Linked DNA regions of Homo sapiens. The protein of the gene in region 2 interacts with the protein of the main gene of each other region in a biochemical or structural test. Each region holds a gene or a part of one and is shown on either strand. Other genes may lie near its edges.

Evidence for each region.
Region 1: of the proteins of KCNA4 (region 2) and LNX1, one has a biochemical effect on the other in vitro, tested with the Homo sapiens proteins (2 studies listed by BioGRID and IntAct, with this or other methods).
Region 3: the proteins of KCNA4 (region 2) and PTPN3 interact in a test that uses a peptide from one of them, tested with the Homo sapiens proteins (one large-scale study listed by IntAct).

What each region holds. Positions count from the first base shown.
Region 1 is NC_000004.12:53,507,971-53,511,622, reverse strand, and holds part of LNX1 (E3 ubiquitin-protein ligase LNX), read left to right. Parts: intron 1-3,395; coding exon 3,396-3,637; intron 3,638-3,652.
Region 2 is NC_000011.10:30,014,820-30,018,571, forward strand, and holds the start of KCNA4 (potassium voltage-gated channel subfamily A member 4), read right to left. Parts: upstream 2,212-3,752; 5' UTR 1,753-2,211; intron 1-1,752. UniProt on the Homo sapiens protein: Voltage-gated potassium channel that mediates transmembrane potassium transport in excitable membranes. Forms tetrameric potassium-selective channels through which potassium ions pass in accordance with their electrochemical gradient.
Region 3 is NC_000009.12:109,488,306-109,491,957, forward strand, and holds part of PTPN3 (tyrosine-protein phosphatase non-receptor type 3), read right to left. Parts: intron 1-3,652.

The DNA.
Region 1 (3,652 bases), on a different chromosome or scaffold from region 2:
GATTTACCTCTACTCACTTTGATAAAAGAGCTCAGGATCTCCCAAGAAAACTGATTTTTCAGAGTTGCTCATTTGAATGGACAGCACCTCCAAAGCTTGTGCTTTGGTTGAAAAGGGGTTTTCTGTGTTCCTTGTATTCATCCTTCAAGTTCATGGCCATCACCCATCACCATCTGAGAGTACTTAGTGCTCAGAGTAACTGAAAGGAAGCATAAATCCTCCTTGCTTTGAACACAACCCAGGGTTTACCGTATGTTCTTGTCCTGGCCAATGCTAATCAGCTCTTCCCCGCTTCTTCCATCTTTAATGCTTGTAAATCAAGCTGCCCCAGTATTAGTCACCACAAAAGAGATAATTAGTAAGTACAAGCTGCTACCTTCATAGATCACTCTGTCTCTGGCTCAAGCTAAGCCAAGAGACTGGAGAAAGCTAACATTACACAGTATGAGTTGCATTAGCAGAACCTTTATTACACAAAGCACGTGAGTCTGAATACTTAAATCAAGAATCTGCACCCTCCCCAGCTGTTGTAAGAACAGCTGTGATATGAGACCAAAGGAAAGGCTACTTACCTACCTTATGAGGTTTTCCTTTCCTGGACTCAAAAACTTATCTTTAGAACCCCAAGAATTTGAAAGTGCAATGGTTTCTTAATGGCATAATCTTGGGATTCAGATATTTTTAAAATACTGTAACCCCCATTGATGGGGCAGCAGAGAAAGGTGCCAGTTTCTTTTACTAGGACATGCTGTGTCCTCCCAACAAAGCCATGGCTTGTACCTTTGCCAGCCATTTGTCCAGCTGGAAAATAACGTTACTATTCTGGCAGGGCACATGGTCAAGAGCATTGCTGCCTCCTCAGAAAAGACCATTTCCAGACCAGCTAGGAACTTCCTTTCCATGCACTGCTAATCAGATACTACCAGCCTGCCTGGAAGTGTTTCATTCAAGTATTTGTTACGTTGGAGCCGCTCAAATGCAAGTTGGCTTTTATTTTTTCCATCACACAGTGTTTCACCAATTTTTGAGTTTCCCAGATCAACCTCTTCACTATGTTTAAACAGAATGATTCCAAGCCAACGCAGCTAATCGGTACAGTAAAACCTCACGAATTCAAGCCAGGAATTTGAACTCTTCCAGCTGAGGACAAGCACTAGCAGTGTAAGTTGGAGGCCTGTTTTCTCATCTAGAAGATGAGGACATAAGGTTGTATAACCAAACTCCTTTTCTACTAATATTAAAACCACATTTCATCTAATCTAAGATGCCACTGACTATGAGAGGTATGTTCATATAACAGCAAAGAAGATGACATTTTAAAATGTGCCATCAGTTAAATAATCCCCAAACACCAAAGATATCCCCATGATGCATAGATTGGTGAACTAGACTCTTGTGGCTTTGAAATCCATTCAGATGAATTTGGCAGCTTCTCCTGCCCTTGGTTGTGTTGCTTGGCATGAAATAGGCAATCCTTTTTGAATGTTCTCAATAACAAAATGTAACACCACTTTTAATTCCCTTGGGTGCATCTTTCTAAGCAGATAAAACATTTGCTTGTCCCTTTGCAAGAAAACACAGAATTGTGATTCTGCTTCTAACAATGAATATGTACTTCATCAATATCCAATTGTTCTGTTTTTGAGGCTTTCTATAACTTTTCATTTTAGTACTGAATCATTACATTCAAATGGCAATTAAACTCAATGGTGTAATACCAAGTATGTAGGCAACTCAATGGAAGTGATAAGGGGTACTCGTGCGACTGGGTTTGCAGTGCTGGGATGGTGACGTCTGCATCATGACTGCCACCTGGCAACAGAAACTTCACAACCCCATCAATCACACATGCATCCTGATTTTAGACATGTTAAAGCATGAAAAGAGCATCTTAGGATGTACAAAATATGGAAATAGCGACAATCTCATGAGAACTGCTTGTAGTCATGTAGATACCATGACGACTTTAATGAATTTGCATTCTAGTACTTTTGGCAAAAAGTACTAAACCCCTGATAAGACTTAATGTCGATCAAACCTCACAGCAATCCAGAAAGTATATGCAAATTTGGAAGTTTAGCCAGGTAAATAAAATTTCCCTAGATCACCCAGCTATGTAAATTTCAGAGCAAGGATTTAGATCTAGACAATAGGACCTTCCATCTTGCCATTTCTATGATTCTATGGGCAGTAAAAATCATGTGTGCATATCACGGTAGACTGACCTTTGATTTCATCTACTTTCAAAAACATGAAGCATCCCTGAAGTAGGATCTCAAAGGGCTATTTAAAATAGCTCAATCATATAGGGTTTTGAGTAATGAATTGATAAGAATTTATAATTAACACATCCATTATATGCAAATGGACACTTCCTAAAGGGGCTCGTGATATGATTTCTGCCTTCACAACTGTGGAAACTGGAGTGGTTACCTGTAGCTACCCTCCCCACAGTAGAGTGAGATAGTTAAATCACCATTTCCTGACCAAAACCTAGCCTGTGCGCTGCAATGACTTGCCGAGTGGCAGTGTTCATGTTCATGGCAAAATATGGACCTAGATCAGCTCCAACCTTGGTCTTCTGAGCCTCGAGAATGTTCTTTTTCAACTTCTTTCTATTGCACCAATAACTTGCTTTTCTCACAAAGTTTGGTTTTTGTGGAGTTTTCTGGATTTTTTTTTATAGCATGGATAGTGAATGGGTAGAGACAAATATGTTTTTGCTAAAAACCACAAAAGCTGTTTTACTCTCTTAATGGTAGACAACATGGCAATGAATGACACTTCTCAGATCATGGGAGCCCCCAACACCAGGGAGGCCCTCCCAGACCAGCCCAGAGAAAGAGAATGGAAGCCACCAAGCTGCCACTAGAGGATAGCAATGCTGAACTCACTCCTGTGGCTTTGTGGTGAGGGTGATTCTGTTTGCATGAACAGTTAAATATGGAATCTGGGAGGAGCTTTATATTTACGTTCAGTGCTCTGGGAACAAAATCCAAAAGAAGAGTGAGGGTGTGACTAAGGGCTTTCATGGTCAAAATAAACACCAGCAAGCAGGAATTACCAAATAGTTGAACATTGCCAGCCTCAAACCCTACTCATGTAGACACCATGGTGACCTGAATAAATTTGCATTCCAGCAGCCAATGTAGAGATTGCTTTAAGAGAATGCAGTGGGCGTCTTTAAAAAATCTCAAATTATGAATTCACTTGGTTGGCAAATGTATATTGAGTACCGATGTGTGAAAAGGGAAGAGAGGATATAGCGGCAGGCAAATCAAATTCCAAGTTCAACAAGCCTATTATACATTCTTCAATTGTATTTGAAGAGGGCTGACTGAGGAATGGCAGCAGAGCCAAAGCTCTTCTTCACCTCCCCGCTGGTTCTGTTACAGCTGTAAAGGTGCCTCCCACTACGGCCTGACCAAAGATAGGAAGAGGCGCTCACAAGATGGCTGTCCAGACGGCTGTGCGAGCCTCACAGCCACGGCTCCCTCCCCAGAGGTTTCTGCAGCTGCCACCATCTCCTTAATGACAGACGAGCCTGGCCTAGACAACCCTGCCTACGTGTCCTCGGCAGAGGACGGGCAGCCAGCAATCAGCCCAGTGGACTCTGGCCGGAGCAACCGAACTAGGGGTGAGTCAAATGGGT
Region 2 (3,752 bases):
GTAACCCAGAGAACTGGAGAGAATGATGATAGTCAGAATTCAGGGCATCTACCAGCTTCTATTACTGGAAGCACTTGGAAAGCATAAGAGAAATGGCTTTCTGAAGCCATTAACAGGATTCAGCTCTTGACCACCTGCTGCTCCTTGCTGATCCTGTCAGCCTAAAAGCCTAAACACACTGAATTTTATGAAGTGACAAGCATGGAAGTGGCAAACAGAGGTCTTCCCAATCATACACCCCTTCCCAATCATATATATTTTCCTAGGGCAAGAAGGGCATTTGATTGCAACACAAACTCCAGAAAATACACCACAGAGGGCATCTCACATGCCATCTCCCTTCCTTTGCCTGACTCCTAACATCATCTCATACTCTGAAATGTTTACCCTCAAGGAGTTTCCAAATCCCTACTTACAAAACCATCCTGGGGTGACATTCGCAGTGGAGTGTCAGGCCAACATCCTTTCAAGACCGGTACAGACCAAATAGCCTGAGAGTTTGCTCAGTTTCTTCCCCAACTCCCCTAAAACAATTATAATTTCAATGAAGCCCCAATGTAACCCAAGTTCCTGTATAGTTGAATACTACACACACTGCCTTCCCACCCAACTGACTCCCAGAAGGTCATGAATTAGCGAGTCTTCTAATTCACCATCAGCTCTTCGGGAGTTCTAGAACTGCCCTCTTTCTGCTCTACACCAAATAATTTCACATTTATTTATTTATTTGGGATTGTTAGTTTTTGTTTATCTAACTCCCTCCTCCACCCTACAAGTAGCAAATTGCCTTCCTTTTAATCATCTACTAGTTACTTCACTATCCCTGATCTAGAAAGAAAGGGAGAGAGAAAGAAAAGAAGAGAAAAGAAAAATCATTCCTCCCAGCAAATCAGACTGGTTTAAAATCTCTCTTCTTTCTCAAGGTACTCTTGTTAGGAGAATCTATTCAAGCCAATTCCCAGGAGCCTTTATGAGAGAGATCTTTGCAGAGGAATTTGTCTTCTTCTTTAACACCATTAAACTAATAGGATTTTGCAGACTACCTATTCCCCAATCCCGGCGCCCCCAAACAACAGCCAAGCATCCCGCCCCTCCTCCTCTCACCCCTCCAACAACAAGGCTGTTCGTCTCTCAGTGCTAATTCCTGCAACTGTGTCACTGTCAGGGTGGTACCTGAACCTTAGAGAGAGAGAGAGAGAGAAAGAGAGAGAAACTGAGAGAGGGAATCAGAAAAGCCACCACCGTGAGAAATATACACTTCAACGCACGCCATTTATGCAGCCCCTATGTATGTTGCTCAAATGCTCGGAAAATGCACGCAAATCCAAACGTTGGAAGAGGCAGCAATTCAGACCCGTTCACCGGCTGTTCCCAAAAGAAGGGAACCGGTGCGGCTGGGAGGAGGCGAAACGATGCTAAATCTTAACCCCCCTCTCGTTGGGAAACGACATCTTTAATCGCGCCCTCGCCTCCAGACCTCGGTTCCCGCTCCAGCACGTTAAGCAGGGCGCACTCACCGCATCCCCGGGTTTGGGAAAATAACAACTGTTGGCCCCCCGGAGCGCCGCGCAGCATCCGCACCTCCCTTCTCCCACCTCCTGGTTTATTTTTAACCGCCTTCCATTCATGCCCTTCTGTCACATTCCCGATATTATTTATCCCTCAAATGTCCACTGTTTCTTAACAGCCAAAATAAGAAGGTAGAGGAAAGATACAAAAAAAAAAAAAAAAAAAAAAAGGTATCATACTTACCGTTCCCCGGCGGGGCGAAAAATAAAAATAAAGAAAATCCACCGGCTGGCTTGTTTTTCCCCCTCAAGCTGCAACAGCTGGAGGAGGGGAAGAATGATCCTGGGTGGGGGGCGGGGGGTGGTAAAAGGAATCACTCGGGTTTGGCAGGTGGAGGCTCCAAATATCCACGGAACAAGTTCTGTTGCCTGGCCCGAGGGGTGCACAGAGTCCTCGCGGCTGGAGCCTGGGGGTGGGGGTTGGGGCTGCCCCAGAGAAGACCCCAAGACTCCTGGTTCCTCTGGAGTTCAGCACAGGAGGGATTGCCTGGGAAAGGAAGTCAAGGTTCCCCCGAAAAGAAACAAAATCCTAGACAGCAGCGATCACTTGTTAAGCCCGAATTCCTCCTCCAACATCCATCCCTCTCTCGCTCTCGCTGGCTGCGGGAGCAGCACACGCCTCCCCTGGCCGCGAACGCGCTCTGGGCGGGGGCGGGGCCAGGGCCGAACCGAGGGTGTGGCGTTCGCGACGGTCGCCAGGGGCGCCTCCCGGCGCGGCGGGGCGGGTGCAGTCACGACGCCGCGACTCCCCGCACCCCGGCTGGGCCCCCCGACTCCCAGGATCTGGGATCGATTCCAGGAGTCTTTGGCTGTGGTCCCCACAGGCGAGGAGCAAATCCTGGAGAAGTGTCCCCGTTGGGGCCGGAATAGGGGTTTCGACGGCAGCGCGGGAGTCCCCAGAGGGCTTGGGAGCGGGGAGCTCCAATGGGAGGTGCAGTCCCGAAAATGGGGTCCTCTGGGACATCTCCTCTACCTAACTTGCTTTCTCTATATCTCCCCTCGAGCCCCGAGCCCCGTCTTCTTTTCCCCACCCCATCCCCTCCCAAAGCGGGTTTGTTGGGTTGGGAGCCGGGTGCATCTCCGGCGAGGCCACGGGCGGGGAGCCCTCCTGTGCCTGCCAGAGCGCCCAGATCCCTCAGTCTCCGTCTCCTTTGCACACAGGAGTTGGGAGGCTTCAGCGCCGGGGTTGGGCCTCAGGGGCGCGGAGGAGACCGACTTTCAACCTGTATTCAATCCCGGGCAGGGGAATGTTACAGAAATTGGAATCAGGCCCAGGCTAGGGGCTGCGCACAGGAGGCAGCAGTTCTAGGGGAGGAGGGTTGGAGAGATGAGTAAGTTGCAGGGTGGGCCAGGGGCTGAGGGCTTTGGAAGGCGGGGGAAGAGCCCGCAGCCAACCTGTTGCTGCAAAAACAAATACGGCTCTGGTATCGACTCCCTGAGGGCTCTTTGGATCCTTCAGGACAGAAATCAAGGGATATCGCAGCAAAAAGCAAGTTTTTTTGGTTTTCTTTCTTTCTTTCTTTTAATTAAAGCTTGTGCGCACAAGGGAGCTAACACCAAGAAAAAAAAAAGTGGGCTGTTCCTCGAAGTCAGGGTGTGGGTTTCTTTTACGGGCCTCTCCCGTAAGGGGAAATAAGGAGAACTATAGACAGGGCATGTAGAGGTGGAGTTTTTCTGGTGCATGCATGGTGGTTTAACATGCTTCTTCATAGGACGTATGTATCATTAGCATCTTAAATCTCCACCTCTGGGAAAGATTTTTTGCATTAAATTAAGGAAAAGGTCACTATGAGTTGAAAGTTAAACCTAGCCGCCGCGCATGCCAGGGCCTCGGGCAAGTCCCTGGTCCCCTAAAGCCGAAACTTCTGGTTAATAGCTTCTTGAGCTTTTCATGCTAATTGGCTGGAGTTACAGTTTGAGGAAGGGTCTCTCCTTGTTTCTTGTTTATTTCTTCGGACCACATCAAAACAGGAAAGTAGACAGTTTGCCTGTCTCAGGCTTGCCAGAATCAACCGGGCGAGAGGTTTGGCTCCCGGGAGGACTCTATCTTAGTGATCTCTCCCACTGCCCACCTCCATTTAAAAAAAAAAAAAAAAAAAAAAGGGTTTTGCTGTCCATCTCCACCCCACTCCCACACACGCGAGCGCGTGCGCACACACACAAACAAACACACACACACACACA
Region 3 (3,652 bases), on a different chromosome or scaffold from region 2:
GCCAGTCTGGTCTCGAACTCCTGACCTCAGGTGATCCACCCGCCTCTGCCTCCCAAAGTGCTAGGATTACAGGCATGAGCCACCGCACCAGGCTGAAAGTACATTTTTAAGCAGTAAAATCTAATAACACAGTTAACCAGAAAATCTTTCCAACATTCAGCAGTACTAGTATCTTGCATTCTAGGAACCGGAACATTCCTTTACTAACTGGCTTTTCCATTAAAGCTGCTGATGCCTAGAGTAATAAAAACACGACTGCACTGGACAGTGTTCTTAAAGTTCACATGACTGGGATGCTTCCCAGAAAATAGCTCCATTATCTTCACATTTTCATCCTATAATAATTTGTAATCCAGGAAGGCAAGGTTTGTATTTTCTTCTAGGCAGAAAATAAGTTAAAGAACCAGACTGTATGGATCCCAGAGCCTGACCCCTTGACCGAGTGTCTGGTCACTTGATATTACAAATCTAGACTTCCTGATAAATGGCCCTGTAGTGACCTTGTTACTGGGATCCCTAGATGCTGGTTTCCTGCCTGGTTTCTCTGCATCCAAGTCCCTGTCTGCATCTACTGTCCATCCAATGCCCATCCTCTTCTGCCTGGGTCCCCAATGCCACCTGCTTCCCTGCCTTTGCCAAAGGTCAGTGACTTAGTCATCATCTCAGAACTAGGGCTGGAACAGGGATGTGGGCGTTGGTGCAGGAAGAAGAGGTGGAAGTGTGAGCACTAGAGGAAAGAAGATAAGGTCTAGGGTGACTCCCGCCTCCTGCCCTTCTTTGCTTACACACCCTGGCTCTTAAATTCTATTAGAAATTGGTCAGTGGGAAGCACAGCTGGCTTGTTCATCTCCCTGTCCATCTATCATAAACTCTGTCCCTGCTCCTCCATCCAGCCAGGGTATGTGAGTGACGTTCCAGACTCTGCCAGTCCTTGTGGCAGACAGGTACCATAGTGAGGTGAGAGCTGACAAAAGGCCGGTGTGGCAGGCACAAAGCTGGGAGTGGCATCCTACTGGAGGTGGGACCACAGAGGTGTGGGGACCAAAGCCACAAACATCAGGCCTGCAGGCCATGCAGAGGTTAGTTTTGTCTTTATCCAGGTAGAAGATTCCTAGTGCTAGAGGGTTTTCCATGCTGGCTCACCCTGCACTGATCTCAACCTCGAAGTCACTCTTAAATCCGGACGTGACCACACGTCCGGATTTACCTAGGGCAGTCCCGGCTTAGACCCGTCAGTCATGTGCAATTATTAATAGGACCCCTTTTTATTCTCAAATTGTTCTGGTTGGGATGATAAATTCTAGTTGCACTGTTCTTGGGGGCCTAGGCCTGTGAAGTCAGTGCTGCAGTTAGAGAAGTCTACCCATGATTAGCAGGGACGCCCAGCCTGATGAGTCTCACCCCTCATCAAACATTCCATTTGCCTCTCCAGTATCCCTGCCAAACCATCATCTGGCTTCTGCTTGTATATCTGCAAGGACAGCAGGCTCACTATCTTCTCAGGAAGCCTCTCTTTTTTGGGGAAAGCTTTGTTATAAAAATAGCAGGATTCAAACCTGTATACAGTATGACTGCAACTAAATAACAACATCCAGGCCGGGTGGGGTGGCTCATGCCTATAATCCCAGCACTTTGGGAGGCCGAGGTAGGTGGATCACTTGAGGTCAGGAGTTCTAGACCAGCCTGGCCAACATGGCAAAACCTCATCTCTATTAAAAATACAAAAAATTAGCTGGGCGTGGTCGTGGACACCTGTAATCTCAGTTACTTGGGAGGTTGAGGCAGGAGAATCACTTGAACCCAGGAGGCAGAGGTTGCAGTGAGCCGAGATCGCGCCACTGCACTCTAGCCTGGGTGACAGAGCAAGACTCCATCTCAAAAAAAACAAAACAAAAACAAAACAAAAAAAACCCCACATCACTCAGCAGGGAAAGGCGTGGGGCTGGAAGAAAGCAGAAAACCTGCTGACTTTTCCCCTTGCACCTCCTTCCATCTCTCCCTCTCCTCATTCAACAAATATTTACTGAGTGCATTTGATGGTCCAGGGACTGTGCTTGGCACTGGGGACAAAATGGTGAGTTAAAACAGACTCAATGTGAGGGGCATTCTACAAAATAATTGGCTTGTACTTTCCAAAAACGTCAAGGTCTGGCTGGGCATGGTGGCTCACGCCTGTAATCCCAGCACTTTGGGAGGCCGAGGTGGGCGGATCACCTGAGGTCGGGAGTTGGAGACCAGCCTGACCAACACGGAGAAATCCCGTCTCTACTAAAAATACAAAAAATTAGCCGGGCGTGGTGGCACATGCCTGTAATCCCAGCTACTCAGGAGGCTGAGGCAGGAGAATTGCTTGAACCCAGGAGTCGGATGCTGCAGTGAGCTGAGACTGAGCCACTGCACTCCAGCCTGGGCGACAGAGCGAGACTCCATCTTGGAACAACAACAACAAAAAAAGTCAAGGTCCTGAAGGACCAAGAACAATTGGGGAACTGTCTTAGTTTAAAGGAAACTAACGAGACATGACAACCGTACGCAACCCATTTATAAGAGTTTTTTTTTTTTTGCTATAAAAAAGGACATCACTAAGACAACTGGCAAAACCTAACATCTAGGCCGGGCGCAGTGGCTCGGGCCTGTATCCCAGTACTTTGGGAGGCTGAGACAGGCAGATCACTTGAGGTCAGGAGTTCGAGACCAGCATCCAACATGGTGAAACCCTGTCACCACAAAAAATACAAACATTAGCCGGGCATGGTGGCACACGCCTGGAATCCCAGCTACTTGGGAGGCTGAGACAGGATAATTGCTTGAATCCAGGAGGCGGAGGTTGCAGTGAACTGAGATCACACCACTGCACTCCAGCCTGGGTGGCAGAGTGAGGGACACTCTCTCTCAAAAAAAAAAAAAAAAGTATATAAAACTTGAGGTTTATAGATTAAACAATGTTGTATCACTATTAATTTATTGATTCTAAAATTTGTATTGTAGTTACGGAATATCATCGCTTTTAGGAAATATATGTAGGGGGAAAGGAGGCATTGATAAATAATCCTCAAATGGTTCAGGATAGATATATATGTACACAGGGATAAAATAAAAAGAATAAAATGGTAATGTTTGGGGAATCTGGGTGAAGAATTTATGGGACTTCTTTGATTTATTCTTACAACCTTCCTATGGGTCTGAATTGTATCAAAATAAAACATTAAAAGAAAAAAAAATAAAACTTAGAAAAAGTTTTTTTAAAAAAGAGACCCTGCCTTCACACAGCTTACAGTGTAGCCGGGAGACAGGTACTAATACAAATAATTACATTAATTAACTGCAAAATTGCCACTAGGAAAAGTGCTATAATGGAGAGAGATCTGGTGGCATGAACATTTATAGCAACAATTTAACTCAAGTCAGGAAGGTGAGCAAAGGCTCTGCAATCATGGAGCTGAGACCCACAGGATGAAGTAATCAGTGGGGAGGGGGAGAAGGTCCCAGGCTCTTGCAGTCCCTGCAGCAGGAAGGAGCACGGTGAGGTGAGGGCTCAAAGAGCATGAACATAGGGCCTGCAGGAGATGCTGAGAGATCAGCTTTGTCTTCATTTTGAGAAAAATAGGAGTGTATGGAAGACTCCCCCGTCTGTGGAGTAGAGAATCCACTG